2 linked regions of the Homo sapiens genome follow. Changing the gene in region 1 together with any one later gene gives a genetic interaction. Each region holds a gene or a part of one and is shown in the gene's direction. Other genes may lie near its edges.

What was found. Genes that interact genetically often act in the same process or in processes that back each other up.
Region 2: changes in TMCO6 (region 1) and KEAP1 together harm fitness more than expected from each alone (negative genetic interaction), as found in Homo sapiens cells (one large-scale study listed by BioGRID).

Annotation. Positions count from the first base shown.
Region 1 is NC_000005.10:140,641,147-140,646,211, forward strand, and holds the end of TMCO6 (transmembrane and coiled-coil domain-containing protein 6), read left to right. Parts: intron 1-518; coding exon 519-634; intron 635-723; coding exon 724-907; intron 908-1,168; coding exon 1,169-1,273; intron 1,274-1,344; exon of another isoform or gene 1,345-1,439; coding exon 1,440-1,525; intron 1,526-1,760; coding exon of another isoform or gene 1,761-1,778; coding exon 1,779-1,895; intron 1,896-2,417; coding exon 2,418-2,529; intron 2,530-2,633; coding exon 2,634-2,820; intron 2,821-2,953; coding exon 2,954-3,048; intron 3,049-3,426; coding exon 3,427-3,594; intron 3,595-3,838; coding exon 3,839-3,952; 3' UTR 3,953-4,258; downstream 4,259-5,065. Other genes in the region: NDUFA2 (NADH dehydrogenase [ubiquinone] 1 alpha subcomplex subunit 2), read right to left, coding at 4,441-4,532.
Region 2 is NC_000019.10:10,495,823-10,500,933, reverse strand, and holds part of KEAP1 (kelch-like ECH-associated protein 1), read left to right. Parts: intron 1-853; 5' UTR 854-900; coding exon 901-1,539; intron 1,540-5,111. UniProt on the Homo sapiens protein: Substrate-specific adapter of a BCR (BTB-CUL3-RBX1) E3 ubiquitin ligase complex that regulates the response to oxidative stress by targeting NFE2L2/NRF2 for ubiquitination.

The DNA of each region.
Region 1 (5,065 bases):
AGTCTCTCAAAAAGAGCTAACTTCCCAGAGGAAATGAGGAGCAGAAACCTGAAGAGAGTGGGAAGCTGGAGAGGGTATCCAGGCAGAAGAAATAGCATGTGCAAAAGCTCGGAAATGTAAAAAAAAGAAAAAGAAAAAGCTCATGTTAGGCTGGTTGTTGTTAGAGTGTAGGTTGCATGGGGAGAATGGCTAGAGGAGTAGGTTTTGCCAGGCTGAGAGGTTTAAATATCCTTGAAAGAACCCTGTATGAAGGCAGGATAGATATTGTTATTCTCATTTTCAGGTGAGGAAACTTAGGTTCAGGTCCCATATGGAGTAAGTGGCAGGTATGGTATTAGAACTCAGTTCTGATTCTCTGTCCACTCCACTGCAAGGTAGATGCTTATTAGTTGCATTAGTGTGAATGACAAGTTCTGAAGGTGTGATATTGGAAGGCTCACAGGTGAAGTGGGCAGAGAGAGACTTAGGACTTGCTTTCTGTGAACCGTGTGTTCTCCTTTCCCTGCCCTGAACTCCAGGTGCAGCAGTTCCTGCGGCAAGCCCAGCGGGGGACAGAGGAAAAGGAGAGAGAGGGGGCTCTGGTCAGCCTTCGTCGAGGCTTGCAGCACCCTGAAACACAGCAAACCTTCATCCGGTCAGTGTGGATGGTGTGGTGGAGGGAGGAGTTGGGGCTCTGAGGGATGGACCACAAGCTAAGCAGGGCTCTGGTACTCACTCACATAGGCTGGAGGGCAGCATGCGGACCCTGGTCGGGCTCCTGACCAGCAACCAGGCCCTGCTGCAGCTTGAGGCGGCTCGGTGCCTGCATGAGCTCTCTCACTCCGAGCAGTCCACTGTTGCTGAGGCCTGCCTGCCAGCCACTTCTTACCTCCTCACCTACCTCTCCAGTCACAGCTCAGACTTCATAGTAAGCCCTGTCCCTTCCTATCTTGTTCTTGGTTTAGATTTTAAAATTGTGCTTTTGGGACCAGTTTGAGCTGGCAGGTAGGAGGAAGAAAACATGTTTGCCCTTATGCCTACAGCCATGGCTACACCCATCATCTCCCCACCCTCTTGTGAGCCGCAAGGATAGCTGCTCCAGCGTCCCCATCACCTCCCCTCCCCATCTCCCCACACGCAGCCTGGCATGAAACAGGCCAAGCCCAGTGCTTTTGTTGCCTGTTCTCAGGAGCTGTGTCTGTATACACTGGGTAACCTGATCGTGGAGAGTGAGGCTGTGAGAAGGCAGCTCCTGCCACAGGGCATTGTTCCAGCCTTGGCTGCCTGCATCCAGGTGACTCCTTTCTTCCTCCCTGGGCAACCCTTCCTTTGCTCCTCCCCACATGCTCCATCTACTTTGGTTAGGTAGCTCCAGCCTCTGCCCTGTGCCAAGGGGCTGAAAGTCTCTGAAGACCTGATGACCCAGCTTCCAGTCAGATCCTTACCCTGTCTACTTCCAGTCCCCCCATGTGGCTGTGCTGGAAGCTCTCGGATATGCCTTGTCCCAGCTTCTACAGGCTGAGGAAGCTCCAGAGAAGATCATTCCGTGAGTAAAATTGTCTTTAGATGTGCAGCCAGAGGTGACCCACTCAGTAGTATAGCTCCCGGATGCCTGAATGATTTCCAAAGCTGTTGCACATTTTAAATTCATGTGTCTGGCTAGGAAGGGCTTTGGGTTTGGACACTTTCCCATCTGGGCAGGGCTTTGGGTTTGGACACTCTCCCACCTGCTATCAGGGTTTGGTAAGAACCACTGGCATCTTCGTGGTTCCTACTTACAGCCCTGCTTCTGCCAGCAGCTCCATCTTGGCCTCCACTCTCCCTCAGCACATGCTACAAATGTTGCAACCTGGCCCAAAGCTCAACCCTGGGGTCGCTGTGGAGTTTGCCTGGTGCCTTCATTACATCATCTGCAGGTAACAGGGCAATTGGGAAAGTACCACAGATCTTCCCTGGGGCTCCCTTCCATGACATTCAACTCTTTGAACTTGTGTCTGGAATTGCTATAGTGAGTTTTCCTCCCTCCACTGTCTTCTCTTTTTGGAGCCCAGGAGACCCACAGACCTTAGCTGTTTCTCTTTTTTTTTGAGACAGTCTCACTCTGTCACCCAGGCTGGATGGAGTACAGTGGTGCGATCTCAGCTCACTGCAACCTCTGCCTCCCGGGTTCAAGCGATTCTCCTGCCTCAGCCTCCTGAGTAGCTGAGACTACAGATGCGTGCCACTATGCCCGGCTAATTTTTGTATTTCTAATAGAGACGGAGTTTCGCCATGTTGGCCAGGCTGGTCTCAAACTCCTGACCTCAGGTGATCCACCCACCTCAGCCTCCCAAAGTGCTGGGATTACAGGCATAAGCCACCACGCCTAGGCAACTGCTTCTCTTCTTAAAGGTGGAATTGACTATATACCTAGGGACTGCTTGCTTCCTGTTGCCCAGCCAGGTCAGCAATCCTCTGCTCATTGGCCATGGGGCTCTGTCTACTCTGGGGTTGCTGCTGTTGGACTTGGCTGGGGCTGTCCAGAAAACCGAGGATGCAGGACTGGAGCTGGTAGGTGAAGATGTCAGGTGAAATTCTGGGAGATGTTTCTTGATACTCTGGAATGCAGGTAACCTCTTCCTTCTTACACCTGACCCCCCAATTTGTCTTTGCAGCTGGCATGCCCCGTGCTTCGATGTCTAAGCAACCTGCTAACTGAGGCAGCAGTGGAGACTGTGGGAGGGCAAATGCAGCTCAGAGATGAGCGTGTTGTGGCAGCCTTATTTATCCTTCTGCAGTTCTTTTTCCAGAAACAGCCCAGTCTGCTCCCTGAGGGCCTTTGGCTCCTCAACAACCTCACTGGTACGCACCATAATCTGCCCAGGCCTGGACATTTGGATAATGGGGATATTTCCTCATGGCCTAGGCTGAGGTGGGTAGTATTGACAGGGGTGGTGGGGGAAAGCAGTTTTTCACCCTGGTACTTCTCTTCCAGCAAACAGTCCTAGTTTCTGTACCTCCTTGCTCTCCCTGGATCTGATTGAGCCTCTCTTACAGCTGTTGCCAGTATCTAACGTGGTGAGCGTAATGGTATGTATTGGGGTTACTTGAATCCAAGATCTGGTAGTCGGATTGTATGGGACAGCAGTCCTGAGCCCTCAGATGTACCCTTAGTTGAGAGCCAGCAGGTGGTGGTGTGTGGCCTCAGGGCCCAACCAATCTAGGTGTGTGTCCCTTAAACTGGATTATTTATCCTTGGACAAATCAACTAACCACCTTAAGCTTCAGTCTCCTCACTTATAACTGAGGATAATCTTGCATCATAGGGTAGTTGTAGGAGTATGAGAACATGTATGTAGAAGAGCTTGGCATGGTGCCTGGGCATGTGGTCACCATGTCATATATTTTAGCTATTGTTATGATCTTTGTGTTTCATTCTTTGTAGACTATATATGTGTCTATCTGCAGGTGCTCACAGTTCTGTGCAATGTTGCAGAAAAGGGTCCTGCTTACTGCCAGCGGCTGTGGCCAGGGCCCCTGCTTCCCGCCTTGCTGCACACACTAGCCTTTTCTGACACTGAAGTAGTAGGCCAGAGTTTGGAGCTGCTGCATCTGCTGTTCCTGTATCAGCCAGAGGTATAGGTTTCTGGCCCACATCCTCAGTCACCCCTGTTCTGAAGCCACACAGTGGCTCCCTTCCCATCCAGTCCTAACTATAGTTGTTTCTCTGGGCCTGGCTAACCTATATAGGTTCCATGTCAGAAACTTCATCCTCTTGTTGGGGAATGCACCCTCTGGAGTAGGCTGACCCATGAGGCTGTGGGAATTGAGTCTTAGGACACAGAGACCAGGTGTGTTGAATTTTCTTCCCTGCCCCTAGGCTGTTCAGGTCTTCCTGCAGCAGTCAGGGCTGCAAGCCCTGGAAAGGCATCAGGAAGAGGCCCAGCTCCAGGATCGTGTGTATGCTCTCCAGCAGACAGCTCTTCAAGGGTGATCTTGTTTCTCAATGTCACTCATTCCCCTCTCTCTTAACATCAAGCTTGTTTGTCCAGTAGAGCCTTTGGAGATTTAGGACCATAATGAGGTCTCATGTTCTCTGCTCCCACACCTAAGCCAAGACCTTTGGGTCCCAGCTCCTCCCCTTCCACTCAGCACTATCCAGGCAGGAGGACCAAAAGGGACTCAGTGTGGTCTACTTACTCTGGGGCCCTAGAATCCCTGCCCCCCCGCCACCCTTCATGTTTGCTTCAGCAGCTGGTAGCTTTTGATGAGACAGAATAAAGTTTTATTTTTATATTAAGCTACTTTGCCTCAGTGGTTGCACAGTAAGGGGTAGAGGGTAGATGAGGACAAGAACACCCTGAGAAAGTATTTTACAGCACAAGCTTTATGAGGAATAGGAGAACACATTTTTTTCACATTATACTAAGTCCAGCAGAGCCCAGGCTCTGGGGCTGTTGCTCTTAATCCTCAGTGGAGGCTTCAGGCTTTACCACTTAGAACGTTCTCCAGGGCTCTGGTTACCTGATCAGCACTGAAGTTGTTCAAAGGGACATTCGTCTCTTGGCCAAATGCTGAAGAGAGAGAGGGAGGTGTCTTTAACTATTCTGCACCCTGGAGGCTACCAAAGTAAAATAAAAGATCTTTGTCTTTATCTTAGTCTTGTTAAGACAGGAAGAGTATTAAAGAGATATGATCAAAATACATTTGGTATGCCTAGAATTAATACAATAGGTCTCAAACACATCTAGGAAGCCCAAGTCCAAATAGAATTTTGGCTGATTCTGGATGGCCGCAATGGGTTGTTTCAGGGAAGCTTTCGGGGGCACTGTAGGCATTTATTATTAACTACGGTGAGCAATGTATTGCATGGGTCCAGCCTCAGCTGGGAGCCCATTCTCTCTCTTTTTTTTTTTTTTTTTTTGAGACGGAGTCTCGCTCTGTCACCCAGGCTGGAGTGTGGTGGCACGATCTCCACTCACTGCAACCTCCACCTCCTGGGTTCAAGCAATTCTCCTGCCTCAGCCTCCTGAGTAGCTGGGATTACAGGTGCCCGCCACCACACCCGGCTAATTTTTGTATGTTTAGTAGAGACGGGGTTTTACCA
Region 2 (5,111 bases), on another chromosome or scaffold:
CCAAGGCGGGCGGCTCACTTGAGGTCAGGAGTTTGAGACCAGCCTGGCCAACATGGCGAAACCCAGTCTCTGCTAAAAATACAAAAACTAGCCGGGTGTGGTGGCGGACGCCTGTAGTCCCAGCTACTCGGGAGGCTGAGGCAGGAGGATCGCTTGAACCCGGGAGGCGGAGGTTGCAGTGAGCCAAGATCGAGCCATTGCACTCCAGCCTGGGTGACAGAGAGACTCCATCTGAAAAAAAAAAAAAAAAAAGCAAACAAACTGCACCCGATTCTCACGTTGTCACAATGCTGTTGTAATTTTCTTCATGAAGCTGTTTTTCCAGGTCTTGCTTATTTTAGTTTATGATTGCTCCTCCCTGCAGTTGTCAGCTCTGGCAGGGTAGGATTTTTGTATTTTGCTCACTGCTGTGTCTTCAGCACCCAGATCAGTGCCTGGCATACAGTAGGTGCCCAGTAAATGGTGAGGCAAATGAAGGAATGAGCTCAACATGCTCTAGAAAGGGAAAGGCCGCCAGATTGCTGAAGCAGAGTGATCAAAGGGAAGAGGTGGCAGGGGCTAATTGCGTAGGGCTTTGCAGGCTGTTGAGGAGTTCAGTTTTACTAGGTACTGTGGGAGGCATTGGAGGATCCAGAGCAGGGGAGAGACATGACTTCATGTATGTTTTAAGATGGGCTCTTGGGCCAATCAGGTTGATCAGGTCGGGGAAGTTTGCAAGTTTGCAAATGGATTCTGCTTCACCTACTTTGCAGGAAAACTGACCTAGGAATTGCTTTATCTTGCAAAACGAGGCCCGGCAGGTGCTGGCCCAGTCCCAACCCCTGCCCTCTGCCCTGTGCTCTCTCCCCTCCAGGTCCCTGAGTGCCAGAGGTGGTGGTGTTGCTTATCTTCTGGAACCCCATGCAGCCAGATCCCAGGCCTAGCGGGGCTGGGGCCTGCTGCCGATTCCTGCCCCTGCAGTCACAGTGCCCTGAGGGGGCAGGGGACGCGGTGATGTACGCCTCCACTGAGTGCAAGGCGGAGGTGACGCCCTCCCAGCATGGCAACCGCACCTTCAGCTACACCCTGGAGGATCATACCAAGCAGGCCTTTGGCATCATGAACGAGCTGCGGCTCAGCCAGCAGCTGTGTGACGTCACACTGCAGGTCAAGTACCAGGATGCACCGGCCGCCCAGTTCATGGCCCACAAGGTGGTGCTGGCCTCATCCAGCCCTGTCTTCAAGGCCATGTTCACCAACGGGCTGCGGGAGCAGGGCATGGAGGTGGTGTCCATTGAGGGTATCCACCCCAAGGTCATGGAGCGCCTCATTGAATTCGCCTACACGGCCTCCATCTCCATGGGCGAGAAGTGTGTCCTCCACGTCATGAACGGTGCTGTCATGTACCAGATCGACAGCGTTGTCCGTGCCTGCAGTGACTTCCTGGTGCAGCAGCTGGACCCCAGCAATGCCATCGGCATCGCCAACTTCGCTGAGCAGATTGGCTGTGTGGAGTTGCACCAGCGTGCCCGGGAGTACATCTACATGCATTTTGGGGAGGTGAGCGGGGAAGTGGGGCTGGGGGCAGTGTCAGGAGAAGGACCAGGGATGGACGAGTGCTCATCACTGTCTCCCCTTGAGATGTCAAGGCAGGAAACTGGAGAAAAAGGAGGTTCTGGGCTGGGTATGGTGGTGTAGTCTCCACAGTTTGAGGGGCTGAGGCGGGGGGATTGCTTCAGGCCAAGAGTTCAAGACCAGCCCAGGCAACATAATGACACCCTGTCTCTAAACAAACAAACACACAAACAAAAAACAACTGGGGCCGGGCGTGGTGGCTCATGCCTGTAATCCCAACACTTTGGGAGGCCGAGGCAGGTGGATCACCTGAGGTAAGGAGTTCAAGACCAGCCTGGCCCACATAGCTAAAACCCATCTCTACTAAAAATATAAAAATTAGCCAGGCCTGGTGGCGGGCGCCTGTAGTCCCAGCTGCTCAGGAGGCTGAGGCAGGAGAATCGCTTGAACCAAGAGGTGGAGGTTGCAGTGAGTGGAGATCGAGCCACTGCACTCCAGCTTGCGCAACAGAGCAAGACTCAGTTTCAAAAAAAAAAAAAATTAAAAAACAACTGGGGTTCTGAGTTCCTTGTCTACACATGTGGGGAGACTGGTGAACAGCTGGGGAAGGTGAGGTCTTCATATGTCTCTGGGCTCCCTGGTTTCTCTGGGGTCAAAGTGGGGCAGAGTGCAGTGAACAGCAGCCAAATCCTAGGGTAGCCCAGCCTTTCGGGCAGTCAGCAAATGTTTATTGGACACCCGTGACAGGCTGCAAGCTGTAAGTCTGAACCTTAGTCATGTTTTCTTTGGTCCACACAATGTCCTTATACTGTTTTTGGTTTCGTTTTCACATTTCTCAGTGAAGGAAATTATCTATAGAAATTGACAAGAGAGGGCAGGGCCCAGTGGCTCACGCCTGTAATCCCAGCACTTTGGGAGGCTGAGGCGGGTGGCTCACCTGAGGTCAGGAGTTTGAGACCAGCCTGACCAATATGGTGAAACCCCATCTCTAATAAAAATACAAAAAAAGAAAACTAGCCGGGTGTAGTGGCATGTGACTATAGTCCCTGCTACTCGAGAGGCTGAGACAGGAGAATCGCTTGAACCGGGGAGGTGGAGGTTGCAGTGAGCCGAGATCGCACCATTGCACTCCAGCCTGGGCGACAGAGCAAGACTCTGTCTCAAAAAAAAAAAAAAAAAAGCCTGGGCGCGGTGGCTCATGCCTATAATCCCAGCACTTTGGAAGGCCAAGGTGGGCAGATCACCTGCGGTCGGGAGTTCAAGACCAGCCTGACCAACATGGAGAAACCACGTCTCTATTAAAAATGCAAAATTAGCCTGGCATGGTGGCTCATGCTTGTAATCCCAGCTACTCAGGAGGCTGAGGCAGGAGAATCGCTTGAACCCGGGAGGCGGAGGTTGCAGTGAGCTGAGATTGCGCCATTGCACTCCAGCCTGGGCAATAAGAGCGAAACTCTGTCTCAAAAAAAAAAGAAAAAGTTTTTGAAGAGATGAGGTCTTGCTCTGTCCCCAGGCTGGAATACAGTGGTGCCATCATAGCTCACTGTAGCCTCCAACTCTTGGGCTCAAGGAGGCCTCCTATCTCAGCCTCCTGAGTAGCTGGGACTATAGGTATGCAGCACCACGCATGGCTAATTTTTTAGTTTTTAAATTTTTTTGTAGAGACAGGGTCTTGCTATGTTGCTGAGACTGGTCTCGAACCTCCTGGCTTTGAACAATCCTCTGGCTTTGGCCTCCCGTAGTGTTGGGATTACAGGTATGAAGCACCATACCAACACCAGGCCAAGAAGTGTTTATTGAGCACTTGCTGTGGGCCAGCCCCTGTTCTAAGTGATTTATGTCCTTTGCATCATTGACTGTTCCCAACTGTCCTATGAGGCAGTACTACCCTTCAGCCTAGGCAAGCAGGGCAGTGCCCCAGGCCCTAAGCCTTCGGGAGTCCCATGTCTTGGTGTTCCTTCCTGGAAATTTTCTAAGTCCCCCACTGGCTGGTACCAGCTGGGATGGATGTTACACTGATCTCTATTTCTCTCCTTCAGGGATAGATTCTTTCCTACCCTCTATGTTACATGTGGGGTTGATCAGACGCCCCAGGGTTCTCTGGCGTTAGTCCTAGGGCCTGCAGCTTCTAGGAAAGTGGTCTATACAGTAGGAGAAACATATACAGTGTTTCTTTCTTGTGTTTGTATGAACATGGGGTACTAGATTAAAACTGATTACATAGACGAGTGCCTGACAACTTTTTTTTTTTTTTTTGAGACGGAGTCTCACTCTGTCACCCAGGCTGGCATGCAGTGGCACTGTATCGGCTCACTGCAACCTCCATCTCCTGGGTTCAAGCAATTCTCCTGCCTCAGCCTCCCAAGTAGCTGGGATTACAGGTGCCTACCACTATGCCCAGCTAATTTTTAAAAAATATTTTTAGTACAGATGGGGTTTCACCATGTTGGCCAGGCTGGTCTCGAACCCCTGAGCTCAGGTGATCTGCCTGCCTTGGCCTCCCTAACTGTGCTGGGATTACAGGCATGAGACACTGCGCCCACGCCCGCCCCCCACCGCCCAGTCCTTTTTTGTTTTTGAGACTGAGTCTGGCTCTATCGCCCAGGCTGAAGTGCAGTGGCAAGATTTCGGCTCACTGCAAGCCTCCATGTCCTGGGTTCAAGCGATTCTCATGCCTCAGCCTCCGAAGTAGCTGGGATTACAGGGGTGCACCACCACGCTGGCTAATTTTTGTATTTTTAGTAGAGACAGGGTTTCACCATGTTGGCCAGGCTGGTCTGGAACTCCTTACCTCACGTGATCCGCCCACCTCAGCCTCCCAAAGTGTTGGGATTACAGGCTTGAGCCACCACGCCAAGCCCCCTTTTTTTTTTTTTTGGGGGTGGGGGACAGAGTCTCACTCTGTCATCAGGCTGGAGTATAGTGGCATGATCTCGGCTCACTGCAACCTCCGCCTCTCGGGTTCAAGTGATTCTCATTCCTCAGCCTCCCAAGTAGCTGGGATTATAGGCATGTGTCACCATGCCCAGATAATTTTTGTATTTTTTGTAGAGATGGGGTTTCACCATGTTGGTCAGGCTGGTCTTGAACTCCTGACCTCAAGTGATCCGCCCGACTTGGCATCCCAAAGTGCTGGGATTACGTGTGTGAGCCACCGCACCTGGCCTTTTTTTTTTTTTTTTCTTTTTTTAGAGACAGGGTCTCACTCTGTCACCCAGGCTGGACTTCAGTGGCACGATCTCTGCTTATCACAAACTCCAGCTCCTGGGCTCAAGTGATCCTCCCACCTCAGTCTCCTGAGTAGCTGAGACTACAGGCGTGAGCTACCATGCTTGGCTAATTTTTATATCTTTTCTTGGTAGAGATGAGGTCTCGCTATGTTGCCCAGGCTGGTCTTAAACTCCTGGGCTCAAGCAATCTTCCCGCCTTGGTCTCCCAAAGTACCAGGATTACAGGCGTGAGCCACCACACCTGGCTACAAGAAATATTTATCCAGGGCTCTGTATACCCTAGAAGTAGCCTTACTTTGAGGTGGCCATTAATATAATCCCATTTTA